4 linked regions of the Homo sapiens genome follow. The protein of the gene in region 4 interacts with the protein of the main gene of each other region in a biochemical or structural test. Each region holds a gene or a part of one and is shown on either strand. Other genes may lie near its edges.

Region 1 (3,470 bases), on a different chromosome or scaffold from region 4:
AGATTGTCAGGGAGACGAGGAAGTTAAGATTGTGTCATGTATTAATTTGAGAGTACAGTGAATAGAATAATAGTTTGTATTTACCTACAGGGACTCAAAACAGGTTATAATAATTTTTCATTGCCTTGATATATCCTGGATTGGATTTGAGTGGAGAGAGACAGAACCCAGCAGAAATGAAGAAAGGAGATAATGGGAAAAGCAGTAGACGGACCTGGTTACAACGTGTAACATTTTTAGATACTTAAACAATAATGAGTACTTGTACACCTGGATGATTTTGACAAGTCAAATCACATTAAATTGTGAACATCTTGCTGAAAATACTTATTACACTTGACACTTTTTTGTTTTATTTTGAAGGCGCTTCATCTAATTGATGAAATGGATTTGAATGGTGACAAAAAGCTCTCTGAAGAAGAGATTCTGGAAAACCCGGACTTGTTTCTCACCAGTGAAGCCACAGATTATGGCAGACAGCTCCATGATGACTATTTCTATCATGATGAGCTTTAATCTCTGAGCCTGTCTCAGTAGAGTACTGGCTCCTTTTATAATTTGTTACCAGCTTTACTTTTGTGATAAAATATTGATGTTGTATTTTACACTCTTAAGTCTTAACCACAGTCAGAATTATCTTAATGTAGATTATAATTTTGGTCTTTTAGGAAAAAAAAACAAAAATCTGATATTTATTTCAAAATGTATTGAAGCAACAAAATATTAATATTGTGCCATATGACAACAAAGTCTTTCCTAAATACTCCATCTGTTTAGTACTGTATTGTGGAATATTTGAGTTCTATTTCCATACTTGAAAACATGGAGGATTTTAGAGATGCCTGAACAATATTATTTAAGTAGTATGTGACCGAGCTATAAATTTTTGTTTTTGTTCTAAGTAGATTTAATTTGGGAACTGACAGGACAATGTTTTTAGGTTTAGCATTTTGTTTAAAAACCTTTAAAGAAACCTTTAGAAGGACTTAGACCTCACATATTAATGTTGAGAAGTTCTGCTTAATTTTAAAATGGTTTCTATAAAGGGTTTTATTGTATGAAATAGAACTTTATATTTTTGCATATGTATAGATAGTAATTATATTTAATGTATAACTATAGCATTATGGTGAGTGGAATTTGACATTGTCCAAACCTTTTTCATTTTTGAGTGATTAAAAATGAAATGTCCTTTGTATATGTTTGTTTGCTTTTCTTTAACTTTCAGATAAATATTGAATTTAGCATAGGTTTTGTGGTATTGTACATTATCTTGCCTCATCCATTCCTTTATGTGGATAGTTCCCAAAACTGTCAAATTATTCTTGCTGCATTTTCTTATTTTTTTTTTAAATAAGAGAATCATGTTATAATATAATTGAATGTGCACCTGACACATTTTAATAATTGGTGTTGTAGCAAATGTGGTTTTGCTCTTTGGGGCTATAAATAATCTTGAGTAACGCAGGTTGGAATTACCAATAGAGCTGGTCAGTTATCAACAGTAGAGCTCAGTATCAATTTTACTGAAATTAAAATCATACTTGATAAGCATGATAATCAATTTTAACCTAATTCAGCAGGTCAACTTATTTAACTTTGGTGGAGGTGGGATAGGGAAAAGTGAAGGGAGGAATTAATTTTTTTCTAGTTCTGATGTACAGAGATTGTTTTTCATTCTTTTTTTTTTTTTTTTTTTTGTGACAGAGTCTTGCTCTGTGGCCCAGGCTGGAGTGCAGGGGCACTATCTCGGCTCACTGCAAGCTCTGCCTCCTGGGTTCACGCCATTCTCCTGCCTCAGCCTCCCGAGTAGCTGGGACTACAGGCGCCTGCCACCACACCCGGCTAATTTTTTTGTATTTTTAGTAGAGACCGGGTTTCACCGTGTTAGCCAGGATGGTTTCGATCTCCTGACCTCATGATCAGCCCACCTCGGCCTCCCAAGGTGCTGGAATTACAGGCGTGAGCCAACGCGCACGGCCTCTAGTTTTTCATTCTTTAAATCACTTTTATTTGTGGGTGAAGAGGTCAGCTATGCATTCTCTTAATCACTTTCCAGCCTAAAGTTGTCTCATATACAGCACACTGGGGGCTCAACAAGTACCTATGACTATTTGAGAAGACATGAAACTCTTCTCTGATAGAATCGACTGCACCTATATACCTCTCTACTGCCGCATCTTTGCTGATGTGAGGTGTGCTTGCAAATTGTAAGCTTCCACACCTTAATGACTGCTTGCTTGGGTATCTACATGGTTTTCATTTTAACCTACACTATATGTCTGGCTATAGCAGTTTTAGAATTACAGATTTACCACTATCACTCATCTGTCATTTGTCAGACTCACTGAAGCTGGCATATTTGAAATCACCAGTTTGACTAGTTAACTATTTGTTTTTCTCTCTAGCTTCTCCAAAATCTATGCCAGAATAGATCATCAGATATGGATTATATTTCAATCCTTTGCAGAAATGCAATGTCTGTACTACTTTCCTTCCTAGCATAAAGAAAACTACACTTCCCAGCCCTCTTGTAGGTAGGCGATGGCTAGTTCTGACCAGTTAAACATGGGTGGAAGTAGTGTGTGTCACTATCAGACTATCTCATGACAAACCCTTTTCCTCTGCCACAGCACTGTGCAGGAGGCCTCAGCTGAAATGGTGCAGCCACAAGATGAAAGTGGCTTTGATCTTGAGTCTGTGTAGGTCAGCTGGATCCACAGTGGGCTTTGTATGATCAAAAAATAAGCTTTTAATTATGTTAAGCCACTGAGATTTGGTTGTGCTTTTTTGTTTTTAACCACAGCAGAGCCCATCCTGCTGTGACTGAGTGAAGATTTCACATTTAACAATAGGCTTTTAATAAGCATGCAGAGAAAAAGAATCATCTGCTTGAACAGAGATGCTATATCTACTGCTGAGTCAAAATAGAAAATTTTAAGGCTTTTTTTAGATTTGAATTTTAAATAAGACTTTTAAAATAAAGCTTTTATTTTGGTTTTAATATAATTAGGATAATTTGAATTTATCCTTGAGCATGAGAGTAAAAATAGTTTGAGACTTTCTGAATCATTGGCTGATTCTGCCTGAAGGACTTAATGACTTCCATTATTTGAGTTCAGGTACAACTTCAAAGGGGAAAATTGAATGGGATGTGCACATGTTGGCTCATATGTAGTTCTGATTGGGCCAATTTGCAGGACAGAAAATGATGTCTAGATTATGATATAAATTTAAAGGAAGCCAGGACGTTCAGAGGAAAAGCTAGCATATCATGTTTGCCTTACTTAGTTCTTTCCTTTGCAGTTTTAAAAATAGGCTTTTTTTTTTTTTAGTGTAGTTTTATGTTCACAGCAAAATTGAGCAAAAAGTAGTATAGAGAGTTTCAATATGTCCCCTGCCCCACATACGTACAGCCTCCCCCACTATCCTATCCTATATGTCATGAGATAGTACCTACCAGAGTGGTA
Region 2 (3,898 bases), on a different chromosome or scaffold from region 4:
CTCTGCATGCATACACACATACCATGTACATGCCAAGCATCTGCCCACAACTAGACACAAGTGTACATCAAGCAGGTATGTGCATGGTTGTACACCAGAACATGCTTACAAGTATGTACATACGAATACACACTACAAATACATTCACATTTACCTCTCTAACAACAATAGCCAACATTTATATAGCACTTACTCTGTGTCAAGGACTGTTCTGTTTTTAATGTATTAATGTATTTATTCCTCACAACTACCCTAGAATATGGAGGCACAAAGCGGTTAAGAAACTTGCCTCAGATCGCAAACTATTAAGTGATGGAGCTAAGAATCAAGGCCTTAAATCATGCAGCAGATGTAGGTCCCCAAGCCTGTACACATACAAAGACACACACCAAGCACCCAAGCAGGGACACGTTCATATCCAGAGGAGCGTGCCCATGAAAATCCAGAAATATTTGTCTTTCCTCAAGTTTGCATGTTATACATTGTTTTATAGGCCCGTTTGACACAAGAAAGACTCAGCTATATACACTGATGCATGGGGCCACTCAGAAACAAATGATATGTGTTTGATCTCCTAACACCCTTTGGTTATCTCATCACATCTTCCCACCTACTTCTTTTGCTAAGTACTTCATCTTCTCACATGTGGTTTTCTATGCTCAGCATTTATGGACAACTCTTACCCCTCCCTACCCTTCCCCATATCACCACCACTCCTCATTCTGTCCTCTCAAGCATGGGTCCCTCATAACAATGCCCTGTCTCCTTCCTTTCTATATAGAGTGACTTAATGTATGATAGGCTCAGTGTCCTGATCGATGTCCTGGCTGAGGAGGCAGCAGCTACTTCTGCTGAAAAAAGTGCTACAGAATATGCAGACAGCAGCAAGGCAGATAGGAAGCCCTTCATTCCTCAAATAGACCACATAGCCAAGTGCAAGTTGGAGCTGGCTACAAAGGCCCAGAGTCTCCAGAAATCCTTGAAACTCATCATATTTCAAGTTGAACAAGGTAAGGTGGCCAGGGTTGTAGTGACTGAGGTAGGGGAAAGAAAAAGTTCCAGAGGATGGTTTACTGGCCTCACTGACTCCGGGTTTGCTCTCTGACTCTGCTACAAAAAGTCTAGATTCTGCATTCATATTGTATACAAAGTCAGTATTCAGACTACTGATTTGAAAAGCCTCAGTCCTGCTAAGCTGCCCCTTTGGCTCCTCCTACCTCCCAGACAGTCAACTCCTGCTACTCATTTTTGGAAACCAACACTCATCCTATACAATTATATTAATAGATGCTAAGTGACCTGGTTCAAAGCTCTATCAGCTTCCACCACCAGCCATAAGACTTTTTTCCTCCTTCTCCTGTTTCTTTCCAACCACTGAGCCTATGACTATTTTAGAAAGAAAATGGTGTTCAACTCTGCATGTGTTGCACATGATTAATCAGGCACAAGGGCCCTGAGAGTGGTCCTGACAGTTCTAGCATTAATTACCATTGCTCAGAACTCACGACAGTCTGCAAACTTCCCAACTCAGAATGAAAACTCTTCAACTCCCTCAGTTTCTTCATTGAATGTTTTGCTGACCACTTCTTTCCCACAATACTTTGAGAAACAGATCAGAAGGTGGTATAAGAATGAGTGTATTCTAACTGAACTATTGGAACTGAGCAGAAGTCCCATGCAGCAAGGAAGTCCCTTTGGCTGGCCCTTGACTTTTAGCCATGGTGCCTTGCCCTGCCTTGGTACCTTCACGTACAACCTCAGCCAAGTTTCCTAGAAAGAAAGAAAATCTCCCTTCTGCACAGTGGAAGGATTAAACAATCAATTTGCCTCTATTTCTATAATTAGTTTCCAAGCAGTGTGGATCAGATTAAACGGATGTAGCCATAACTGTCGCAACCAACCCTCAGTCTGCTCCATCAACACATATGTTAGATTTAGAGGTGTAGCTTGTGGCTATGAGATAGGAAAATACCTCCCTGGTAGGGGTAGAGATTGAACCTATGAGCTTTGACACAGGCTGAGACTGGGCATCTCAGCTATACAACATTTGGCTGGTGAAAGGAAAGAGACTTCCCAAATGTTCCAGGTGTGGAGTGAGACATTAGAGTGAAAGAGTGGCACAGTCCTAGAGGCTCAATTATAGACAAAAGCCACATAAGTAAATGAACTAATAGAATGGAGGTAGAAGAGCAGAGAGTTTCCCATGCTGATACCCCAATCCACAGCCACAAGCTTCTACTCACAACCACATGTACTGGGTGAGAGAAAAAAGAGTAACCAGTAAAACAAAGAAAGCTCAGGCATGAATATGAAAAAACAGCAACACTGTAAGCAAGCTGAGACTACAAACAGTATCATGGAGGAGACGTGATGGTCGAATGGGAGTCTCCATCATCTACCCACTAACTAAACAAAATAGATGCTCGATAAATGTTCAATAAGTGTAATTAATCTTTCCTTCCTTCCATCCTCCCTCCCTCCTTTCTTCCTCCCTCCCTTCCTCCTTTCTTTTTTGCTTTCCTTCCTCCCACTTTTCTCTATAGCTCTGGATGAGGAAAGCAGACAGACAATATCTGTTAAGAACTTTAGTTCAACTTTCTTCCTGGAAGATGACCCAGAAGATATTAACCAGACAAGCCCACGACGCCGTAAGGATCTTTCTGTCTTCTTCCCTTATTCTAGCCTTCGTCACTGTTGTTTAGCTCCCAAAGAATAAATATGTATTTTTTATGCATCCTCTTTTAGCCATAATCCTGCAGTAGATACCCCTCCGTCTTTCCCAGAAACTCACACTATAAGATCCCATGCCAATGTCCAGAGTAATGACCCCATTAGGAACATTGAAGAGGCTGGCCTGATGAAATACAAGATTTGAAGTTGTTTTCACTGCCAGCAAGCAAGCAGCCCAGCTTTATTCTTCTCTCAGTGGAAGTCCCTATCCATCCAAGAGGATCCCTCTTTGGAATTAGAACCCTTAATATTATCTAGGAGAAAGTCACTGAGCTTGACCCTGCCTCCACAGAGAAAATAGGGCGAAATACAAGTGAGGGGAAAGGGCTTTTTTGTTTGTATCCGTCACCCAAGTGATGTCTTTTGTGTCTAGGTTCTCGTCGTGGCACTTTGTCTTCTATATCTTCTCTCAAAAGTGAGGACCTGGACAACCTTAACTTGGATCACTTACATTTTACACCTGAATCTATGTAAGTATTTAACTCTATCACCTTTTAATGGCTTCTTTCTTTCTCTTGTTAAGAGCACAATCTTAGGATATCCATAGTCAAATCCTTTCTCTTACTTACTAGCTGTGTCACCTACGCAAGTGACTAAACCAGTGTGAGCCTCAGTTTTCTCATATGTAAAATGAAGACCATTGTAGAACTTGCATCATGGGTTTGCTGTATTTATTACATTTATATATGAAAAGTACTTGCACTGAGTAGTGCTTGGCACCCATAATTAAGTGTTATATGCATTTGCAGTTATTATTGTTATTATTATAAATAATTAATAAATGTTAGTTGTTGTTATTACAGAGGACTTGCTTTTTTTCACTGTTGCCCTTAACAGTAAATGGTTGAAGATACTAAAAACTAAAATGGTCACTAGGGGACTAGGCAGCAAATCTAAGGACATCTGTCTCACCAGTTCTCCCTCTTTAGAATATCGGCAGCAGCCAAGTTCTGCCACACTCACTCATTCTGAGTTCCATTAAGAAGATCAGTTTGGACATTAGTTAGAGAAACTCCAATCTCTGGACTGTGGTTGAGGGAGGCAAATCTCATGTGAGAGATGTAAGGTCAGTATGGTAATGAATAAAAAAGTAATCTAAGATTAAACAGCTAAACTGTATCCATTTAATTTCTCAAAAGGACACAGCTAGAAATTATTTATGTTTTCT
Region 3 (3,898 bases), 5.6 Mb from region 4:
TTCTACTAGGTAATGATTATAATTTCCAAGATCATCTTAGGTGAATAAAACAAGGGGCATTTCTGTATATATAACATTTTATTTTTTCTAAAAGGGGTTTTTATGCAAACAATTTGATTGGATCTTCATAGAATTGTTCTCAGAGAAGAGCAAAACTACTAAGAGTTGCTGCTTCTGAGAAGAAATCTAAGTTAAGAAATGAGGTGGAATATTTTATGCATAATTTTTATATACATACACTTTAAGCTCTATATTAAATACATAATTTACCTACTGAAATATAACAATTACATGAAAACATTCTATTTGTGGGAAAACAAAAGACAATAGAAATTGCAATGCCAAATTCAGGCAAAATATTTAGGTTGTACCACCAGGATTCAGGAGAGAACAAACCTTGGAATTGGACATTCAAAGGTTGGAAGAAATACTCGTTTGCTTACTGTTTATGTGGTTGTGTCAAGAAATATTTATCTTGCTTTGATCCCAAGCAAGTATGTGAATAACGAGGTTATGTAGTGTTAAGTCTTATGATTTATCAGTACAAGAATGGCATGGTAGGAATTTTCACAAGGTGAAACTCACCTCCAGGATCAGAAAAGTGAGAGTCAAACAGGATACAGCTTTGTTGGGTACTGTGGGAACTCTCTAAGGTCATGCTTTTTTTTTTTTTTCCTCCCCACTTGGTTTTTCAGAAAGTCTTGGTGGGATCTTCCATGAAATGATAGTGTCAGTTATCATCCAGTCTCTTCCTCTCACTGGGTTGAGGTGATTTTCTCTAGCATTAGGAGAATTAATCCCAGTACTTGATAATTTATCTTCATATTCTTATAATTATTCTCCTTTGTTCCATCAATATTCTCTTTCTTGAAGAGTATGGAAATTTCCAAATGCTTTCACATGAACCATTAAGGTCTGTGAAAAGATGTGGTCCTATTTTCAAAAAACATTTTTTCTCCTAATTGCCTATGTGTTTTATACTTAAACCTAACCGTACTGTGTCACGGGTACCACAAGATGTTCCTTCAAGAAAGTGTATGTCATCACAGAATTCCAGAGGAGTGTACAAGGAAAACTGGGTTTCAGCTTCGATGTTAATCTCTTACACTTGCTATTTCCTGTGATTTATGGCTTTAGTAGGCTGTGTGACTGGGTATTTACTGTGGCTTGTTCTATTACACAGAAATTATGCCTGGAACTTCTAGGCAAAGAGATTTATAGTATAAAACAGAAGAAGAAGAAAAAAGAAAGCATTTTTTAAAGAGCAGATCAAACTAGCTCTTCAACTGGGCAGAGGAAAGGAATATGCAATGACTCAGAAGAAAAGTAAAATCACTTCTTTTAATGGAGTAAGAACTCTCTCTGCACTAAGGAAATGTAAAGGGTCCTTTGCCTTAGTACTTTTGCAAACCTTGATACATGTGCCCACGATGACACAGGATTGATGGTGCTTGCCCATTTAGCAGTGTGGCAGATTGCATTGATGACGTCTACTAATGGTGCTTCTGTATTCACATCATTTGCTTTTGACTTGATAATTCCCTTTTACTTTCATGTAGCACTGGCCTTCTGACACTTTGACCAATAGCACTTGGTTGACGTGAGAACTTTCTTCCTAGTTTGTGTTGGAACCCTATTGTCACCCTGTGAAGTATGAGAGCACCCAGGTTTTCCAAATGAGTGCATCTTAGACCAGTTGACCTCAAACATGTGAGAGCGTGCAATGCAGATCAACAAAATTGCCTTTCCAACCCACAGCTAATTGCAATCACATAATTGAGCCCAGCTGAAACCCTCAACATTACCCAGCTGACTATTATTGTTAGCAATAAAAAATGCCTTCAGGATGGAGTCCAGTATAAACATACTCATCCCTCTCACTTTAGTCTCTAACTTCCCTTCTCCCAAATCAGATACTATTGCTTAAACTTCAAAAGCAAAAAAAAAAAAATAACATGCATTAATATTCTTGAAATTCGAATATGAAATAAAACAGAATATATGCTGTGGGCAAGAAAGAATATTTAAAATGCTTTGCCTATACTTCTGTGGCTAGAGATGTGATAGTTCCCTTAAAGTCTGAATGTTTCAAATAGTTAAGCGCTTGAATATATTTCATTATTATATTCTTTACCTTGATCTAGTTCAACTTCATTAAGAAAAGTAATTATTGTATTGTGTTTTATACAAAAAAAAATTTTATATTGTACTTCCTGGGTGATTGACAAGATTTCACACTTCACTAGTTTTCCTGACTTTAGTTGAAAATCTACAGCATATCCACAGGGCCTATTAGAGTGCCCATCATATAATATGTGCTCAAAGACTATTTGCTGAATAGAGGAATTTGTGTTAGTGAAGTACGTAGCTCACCATTTATGACTATATAGTATGTGGATAAATAGCAGGCACTTGTAAGTTTTTAGTTTTGCTTCTTTATAAAAATGAGGTGTCAAAATGACTCCCTTGATTAATTGTAAAATCCTGTTCACGCTACACTTCATTTTCTGTTTTCACTGGTTCTTGAATTTATTATTTCTGTCTAATGACAGGAATGTTAATTTGTTACAGCAAAAAACAAATCAGTGATGTTCTGGGGAGAAAAATGTACCAATAAATTGTACTGGTAGCATACATTATTGAAGATATGGTCTTCAGGTTAACCTAGAGATTGCAATTTCAGGTTATAATATGACTTCCCATCAGTTATTTACTTAAAAATGTGATAACAATCCAGCTTTGATTGAAGGAACTTCAGTATGATTCATAGTCTATATGCTTGTTTGACTTCTAAAAACTGGGAGTACACTTTTCCCATCTCAGCATTTCTACTAATTATCATTACACAAGACAATTTACCTTGGAAAAATAATAAATGGTACTGTGGAAGCTACTGAATAATTTTTAAAAGGACTTTATTTTGTTTCTCCAGGAATTGAACAGTGCTGAGAGTTAAAACAAATTTTGGGATGATCATGGTAATAATAAAGACACATAAATTACTATTCATTCCATAGAATGTTAACACTGTGTCTCAGGCCAGCATTTAATCTTCTGTATTTTACGGTTAAGGAAACTAAAATAGAAAGGTCACATAACTCTACCTTGCTTGTCAGATAATTAGTTGCAGAGTTGTGTCTTGGAACTCAAGATTTCTGTCCAGAACTTGGTTTCCAAAACATTGCTGGAGATTATTAGTCAGGTTCCTTTTTGCCATTTTTCTACCTCTCCATTGCATTGTTTTATTCACTCTCCCTTTATCTCAGTGGCACCAATATTTCTAAACAATTGGCTGAAAGTGTTAATAACTATCTGAAATAGTAGAAGGGACCACAAATGAAATAATTCATCTAAAAATTAGCCTTCACAGGAGAATTGCTTGAACCTGGGAGGTGGAGGTTGCAGTGAGCCAAGATCATGCCATTGCACTCCAGCCTGGGTGACAAAAGCAAAACTGTCTCAAAAAATAAAAATAAAAATTAGCCTTGAGAAATAGCATGATCAATTTGCTCTTGATCTGTAAATTAGATGAAGTGCTCCTTTTCCTGGGTCGTATCGAAGGTTTGCGGAAACTCTGAAAGATTTTCCTTTGCTCCACAAAAATTCTGAAAACATGAGATCCCCAGAAATCTTTGAAATTATGGATTGATTGTATAATTATATTGGTTACCACTGACTTAACAATATATACAATTTAGAAGATGCAGAAACTTTTAGGGGAATTCTTTAGTAAGTTGGATCTGGATCCGTAATCTGGGAAACACAGTGGGCAACTCTAATTGTAAAGAAACAGTTTTTCATATTCATATATCACTGTCAGAAACTTCATTGCTAGCAGTGAAAAAAATACAGATAGCTCTGGAAAGAGCGTTTAGAGGGGCATTCCCTCCTCTTCCCT
Region 4 (5,569 bases):
AAAATCTGATACTAAAATGGTGCTAAAGAGTTTTATGAGGATGAAGTTATTTTTGAATGGTTCAAGGAGAAAGAGCAAGGAGAATTAACTCTGAGCTGTGTCTGTTTCCTGTGTTTCAGAGCAGGGCTTGTCTCTGTAATATATGACTGTTAGTTCACTGTGGTTTTCTTTCCTTCTCTTCTCAGGAGGACAAGAAGACCTCATTCTTTCCTATGAGCCTGTTACAAGGCAGGAAAGTAAGTTTCCCAGCACGCTTTCATTCCTAATTTCTGGGCCATAAGAGGTGACATCATTGAAGGAGGGAAAGAGTGAAGGACTAAGGAGAATAAACTCGGCTTAATGCTCTGTTGTCTTGAGACCGTACCTTACTCTTACGCTGTCTCTCACTTTCTCTCTCTTTGACCCTATCACCAAACAGACAACTTCCTGCTGAGTATGGGCACTAATAGCACCTAAGAGAAGGATGCAGCCCTCCAGATGAGTGGTCCTCAATGGGAAGGAACACATTCAAATTACCTAAAGAGCACTAGCTACGAGACTGGTGAATAAATTCTCCTGAGAGACTGATGTCAGCTCAGTATTGAGAATGACTTTCTAGCAGATCTGCCTAAGATGTAGGCTATCTGTAAGCTGCTGCTTTTTCCTGGAGGCATTTATACAGAGGCTAATTGCTACTGACAAGGATACTGCAGAGAGAATTCAAGCATCAGATGGGGACTTGTACCCAATGAACTCTCAGGTTCCTTCTAATCCCAGATACAAGGAAATCTAGAAACTGTAGCAAAGTATAGAGAGTATTTTGATCTGGGGAAAAGAAATCATGAAAACATAAGATGTTATTACTACTAACAATTACTTTTTATAGTCATATCTAAACAATAGCCAAACAGCTGGTTTGGATTCTTTTTTCTCCCACTCAGTTGACTAAATTCAGTTGTTTTGACATTATGTAGGCAGAGCCAGAGAGTAAGCAAAACTCCTCCAAATGTTTCTTTTCATCAACAGATACTGCAATTGCCTTTCCCTGCTAGTAGATTCCAGAAAGTAGGCACTGCCAATCTCCTGAGTGTTAAACATCAATTTCCCTATGCAAGGCTGTATGAGTAATTTATCCAGTGAAGTAATGCCCTTAGCATCTCTTACTGTCTGGCAATTAAGAATCACCCTTGCAGGACAGTTTTGCAGTTGTTTCCAACTCTTTCTCTTTACCTACATCTTCCTTTCCCATTCTGCAGTAAACTACACCCGGCCGGTGATTATCCTGGGGCCCATGAAGGATCGGATCAATGACGACTTGATATCTGAATTCCCTGATAAATTTGGCTCCTGTGTGCCTCGTAAGTGTCATTTTTCTTTCCTCTAGGAAAAACAAAAAGAGCTTGGATTTCTTTATGAGATGGTAAAATGTAATTCCATCCTCCAGTAGTCTCTCCAGTAATTCAAATACCAACCATTTCCGATTAGCTGAGTGCCTTATTTAATTTATTTGCCTAACACTTTTCATTTATGCTGCCGTGTGTCATTCTGTATTTAATAAAAATAATAATGTTTTCTCTAAACTGATTGTAGCCCCTTAAAAGGCAGGATGAATTTTTGTGGCCCCCAACCATTTAAAACAGCATAGGATTTATGATAGGCATCAGTATGTTTTCATAGATTGATCAAAATGCCACTGAAACATTATTTTTTATAGGATGGAAGAGATCGGAAACAAAGCCATATATTAAAATCCTCTCAGGATGACTTAGGGCCATATGTCAATCCCAAAACCCAATAGGCTTTCCCATGTTGACAGTCCCAGGTTTAGGGAGGGTGAAGACAAGAAAATGTGTAACACTTCAATTTGACCTCTAGGCCATTACAGACTTTAAACTACTTTCTTCTCATTATAGATTATCATCAGGCTTCTGGTCCCTCTGATTGTAGCCTTATTAGATTCTAACTGCTCTGCCTCTTCCCCTCCCCACCCCTACCATACTTTCTCCACTCATTCACCCCGTCTACACCCCGACTCTGTCAAACAGAAATGCATGCAGACCTTCTACGTATGTAGACAGGTCCATCAGGAAATTTTAATTTATTAGATAATGGAGCTCTTACATCTGATACCAACAAATATTTCTCTTCCATTCTATGTGTTTTAAGCCTGATGCTTTCAAGTGTCTCTAACATTCCAGTACTGCAAATTTTACATGAGATACTTAAGAATAGCAGGAATTGTATGTGTCCAGTACATGGCCAAAAGACTAGGATGATTGCTGTATCTCATGAAACAATTCCCAGCAAGGGCTCTGGGAAGAGATCCTGCCATAGAACATATCCTGAGAAAGTCTTCAGACAGGAAGGAGCAAATGAAACTCCAGGTCGTTTACAGCAAGCTTCCAGCTTGCTCCTCCACTTTTGAGAGAAAGAAAACAGAAGGTACTTAAGCATTCTTTCTGCTTTCCCTTTCACCTTGCATATTCTCTCTTTTTTGAATTAATAGAACCATTTTGTGATAGTCAATAGATGTTCATTGTACAAAACTTCAAAAACACTAAAAAGAAAGTTAAACGAGAAAATTAGAAGTATACAAAATCCCACACAATACCCAGAGATAACATCATTGTTAATATTTTTGTACATTTCCATCTATTCTTTCTATGCATGCATTTTTTCTCTGTGATGATTTTTTTGCTTATTTAAAATTTTATATAACTATTTCAAATGATTATTATATCCCAATTAATCATTCTTTATGAACATTTTGGTTTTTCCCTATTTTTCACTATTATGAATTGTGACAAAAATATCATCGTAATTGTGTTATAATTATTACTTATAAAATAATATAATGAATATCTTTAAGGATAAATCTGTATCTGAAGTTTTGATCATTTTTAAAAACATATTTCTAGGAAAAAATAAGTGAGTCAAAGATTAAAAATATTTTAACAGCTTTTATTCATATTGCTAGATTGCTTTCCCCTTCTCTTCTTACCAAAAAATTTAGGTGAAATGGTTAGAGTTGCTGATTTTTAGTCCTATCTAACTGTGATTATCTTATTTTATATATGTTGAGAGTCTGAATTTTATGGTCCTTTATAGAATGTTAAGTTTTTGTTCTGACAGGTGATAATTTACTGACACAGCAGCTTCTTCCATTTGTGACATGGTTTTAGACTTTGTGAAGATGGGTGTAGAGTAAGTCTAGAGTAACCTTTTAAAATGTGGCCTTTCTGGGATCTCCATGGGTTCTGACTCAACTCCCGTGTCTTCTAGCACCATGTGATGTCTAAACTCTCCATTTGGAAATGGCCTCTAGGTAGAGAGGTGGGGTGAATGCTCTCTCATATGTTTCTCTTTTCTCAAAGATTACAGCCCTGTACTTCCTGTTGTCTGATATCTGAAAACAGTTGTTTCATATATTTTGTCCAGTTTTTTAGTTGCTTATGGTGGGAGGGTAAGACTAGTACCTGTTACTATGTCATATTTCTTCATACTACATATTTCTACATATCAATGTTGAGGATGTGGTGGAGAATATAGGTGTAAAGCAAGTTTATGGGTATAAATGCACCTTAATTTTATCATTTTTTGTTTTATAAAGATACTACGAGGCCAAAGCGAGACTACGAGGTGGATGGCAGAGACTATCACTTTGTCATTTCCAGAGAACAAATGGAGAAAGATATCCAAGAGCACAAGTTTATAGAAGCCGGCCAGTACAATGACAATTTATATGGAACCAGTGTGCAGTCTGTGAGATTTGTAGCAGAAAGAGTATGTTCACCAATCTTCTTACACCTCCCCTGAAGAAGGTTTCTAGGTTGCAAACTGCATTTTTTTTTTTTTTTGGTCATTACTCTTTCTTGATTGCAATTGTAAATTTTGATTTAATAATTTAAAACATCCAAGCAGAGAATCACCTTAGAGCAATGTCATTAATCTTTGTTCTAATTTCAATAAAGTATTCTCACTGACTTGGAAAAAGTAGGAAGAGGGCTTTGTCTTTGACTCACTATCTGAGGCCCCAATACACAACCTTGATTTTATTAAGGCAGGTTTACTACTTTAGTTGTAAACCAAGGGGATAGCATTCCTGAATTATTTTGTTAGAGGAAGTTATTTTTTTTCTCTCTCTCTGAAAACTTGACATCCTCATGGTAGAAGAGAAGATAGATGAGAAGGGCTGCCCAGCCTTTTGCTCGCAGAAGTTCTAGCTTAGAGGAGGTGTAGATGCTGCTATTATCTTTTTGCTGGTAACTTCAGGGGCATGGAAAAGAGAAGAATGTTCAAGAGAGGGTACCATAGGAAGGCACCTGGGTGTGGCTACACAATCTGCCTACAGAGGGATCCTATTTCCTGTGAACACAGAGAACCAGTATCATAGGAGAAGATATTTGTTGGGTTGATTTGATTTGCCATGACCTTTCTCAATGTACCGCTAAAGAATTAAGTAATTTTGATGTCTATCTAAGAATACACTAAGAAGTTGCATCTATTTTCCTCCCTCTCAAAAGTTCAGTTCTATCAACTAAATGAATACTGGTTCTAGTCAAACTGTCCTGGATAATTGCACCTATTTTCCTCTTTGTTCATGTTGTTAACTTGAAATGTTCTGACTGGTGAATAATCAACCAGCATTTATACATGTTATGTGGCTGCTGCACTTCACAGATAGAAAACTTGAAATCTATTACCTAAGTAATAACGGCTTGAACCATCTTAGTGGGTTTCTCAGATAAGAAGACTTCAAGTATTCACTGGACTGTATTCATTTTCATGTGAACATTATAGATGAGATTTTAGCCCTTATTATTGATTTAGTATTGTTCCTATCTGCATAAAGTGCCTTTTTTCTCTTCTTGCATAAAGTTATTCTAGCCTCAGGGTAATGAGGACATTTCTCTCCAGGAGGTAGAATATGATGTGGCAAATGTATCTGCATATCCAGAAATGCTTTATAAAGCAGCTGCTTGCTCTGAGCACTCATTGTGGTGGAAGCCAAGTTAAATGAGGTGTGCTATAATGTAATAGCATTTTTATTTGTTAACAAACAAGAAATTTACATACCTCATGCAAGCCTTTCTCTCTTGGCATTTAACCCGCATTTAATTTATATATATATATATATATATGTTTTAATTATATATTTTATATGTGTGTGTGTATATATATATATATATATATATATATATATATATATATACATATAGTTTTTATTTTTTTTGAGATGGCATTTCACTCTTATTGCCCAGGCTGGAATGCCATGGCACGGTCTCAGCTCACTGCAACCTCCACCTCCTGGGTTCAAGTGATTCTCCTGCCTCAGCCTCTCAAGTAGCTGGGATTACAGGTGCCCACCACCATGCCTGGTGAACTTTTTGGATTTTTAGCAGAGACAGGGTCTCACCATTTTGGTCAGGCTGGTCTCGAACTCCTGATCTCAGGTGATCCACCCGCCTCGGCCTCCTAGAGTGCTAGGATTACAGCCATGAGCCACTGCACCCAACCAACCATATGTTTAAGTTAACCATTTTTGTGTCTGCCCTCCACTAGACTGAGTACCTTGCAGACAGGATATGTA

What was found. The genes of interacting proteins can lie anywhere in the genome.
Region 1: the proteins of DLG2 (region 4) and RCN2 interact in a test that uses a peptide from one of them, tested with the Homo sapiens proteins (one large-scale study listed by IntAct).
Region 2: the proteins of DLG2 (region 4) and DGKK interact in a test that uses a peptide from one of them, tested with the Homo sapiens proteins (one large-scale study listed by IntAct).
Region 3: the proteins of DLG2 (region 4) and GRM5 interact in a test that uses a peptide from one of them, tested with the Homo sapiens proteins (one large-scale study listed by IntAct).

What each region holds. Positions count from the first base shown.
Region 1 is NC_000015.10:76,948,707-76,952,176, forward strand, and holds part of RCN2 (reticulocalbin-2 isoform a precursor), read left to right. Parts: intron 1-363; coding exon 364-516; 3' UTR 517-3,470.
Region 2 is NC_000023.11:50,383,470-50,387,367, reverse strand, and holds part of DGKK (diacylglycerol kinase kappa), read left to right. Parts: intron 1-781; coding exon 782-1,010; intron 1,011-2,543; coding exon 2,544-2,648; intron 2,649-3,103; coding exon 3,104-3,200; intron 3,201-3,898. UniProt on the Homo sapiens protein: Diacylglycerol kinase that converts diacylglycerol/DAG into phosphatidic acid/phosphatidate/PA and regulates the respective levels of these two bioactive lipids.
Region 3 is NC_000011.10:89,041,627-89,045,524, reverse strand, and holds part of GRM5 (metabotropic glutamate receptor 5 isoform a precursor), read left to right. Parts: intron 1-3,898. UniProt on the Homo sapiens protein: G-protein coupled receptor for glutamate. Ligand binding causes a conformation change that triggers signaling via guanine nucleotide-binding proteins (G proteins) and modulates the activity of down-stream effectors.
Region 4 is NC_000011.10:83,467,394-83,472,962, reverse strand, and holds part of DLG2 (disks large homolog 2), read left to right. Parts: intron 1-185; coding exon 186-236; intron 237-1,235; coding exon 1,236-1,337; intron 1,338-3,589; coding exon 3,590-3,762; intron 3,763-5,569. UniProt on the Homo sapiens protein: Required for perception of chronic pain through NMDA receptor signaling. Regulates surface expression of NMDA receptors in dorsal horn neurons of the spinal cord.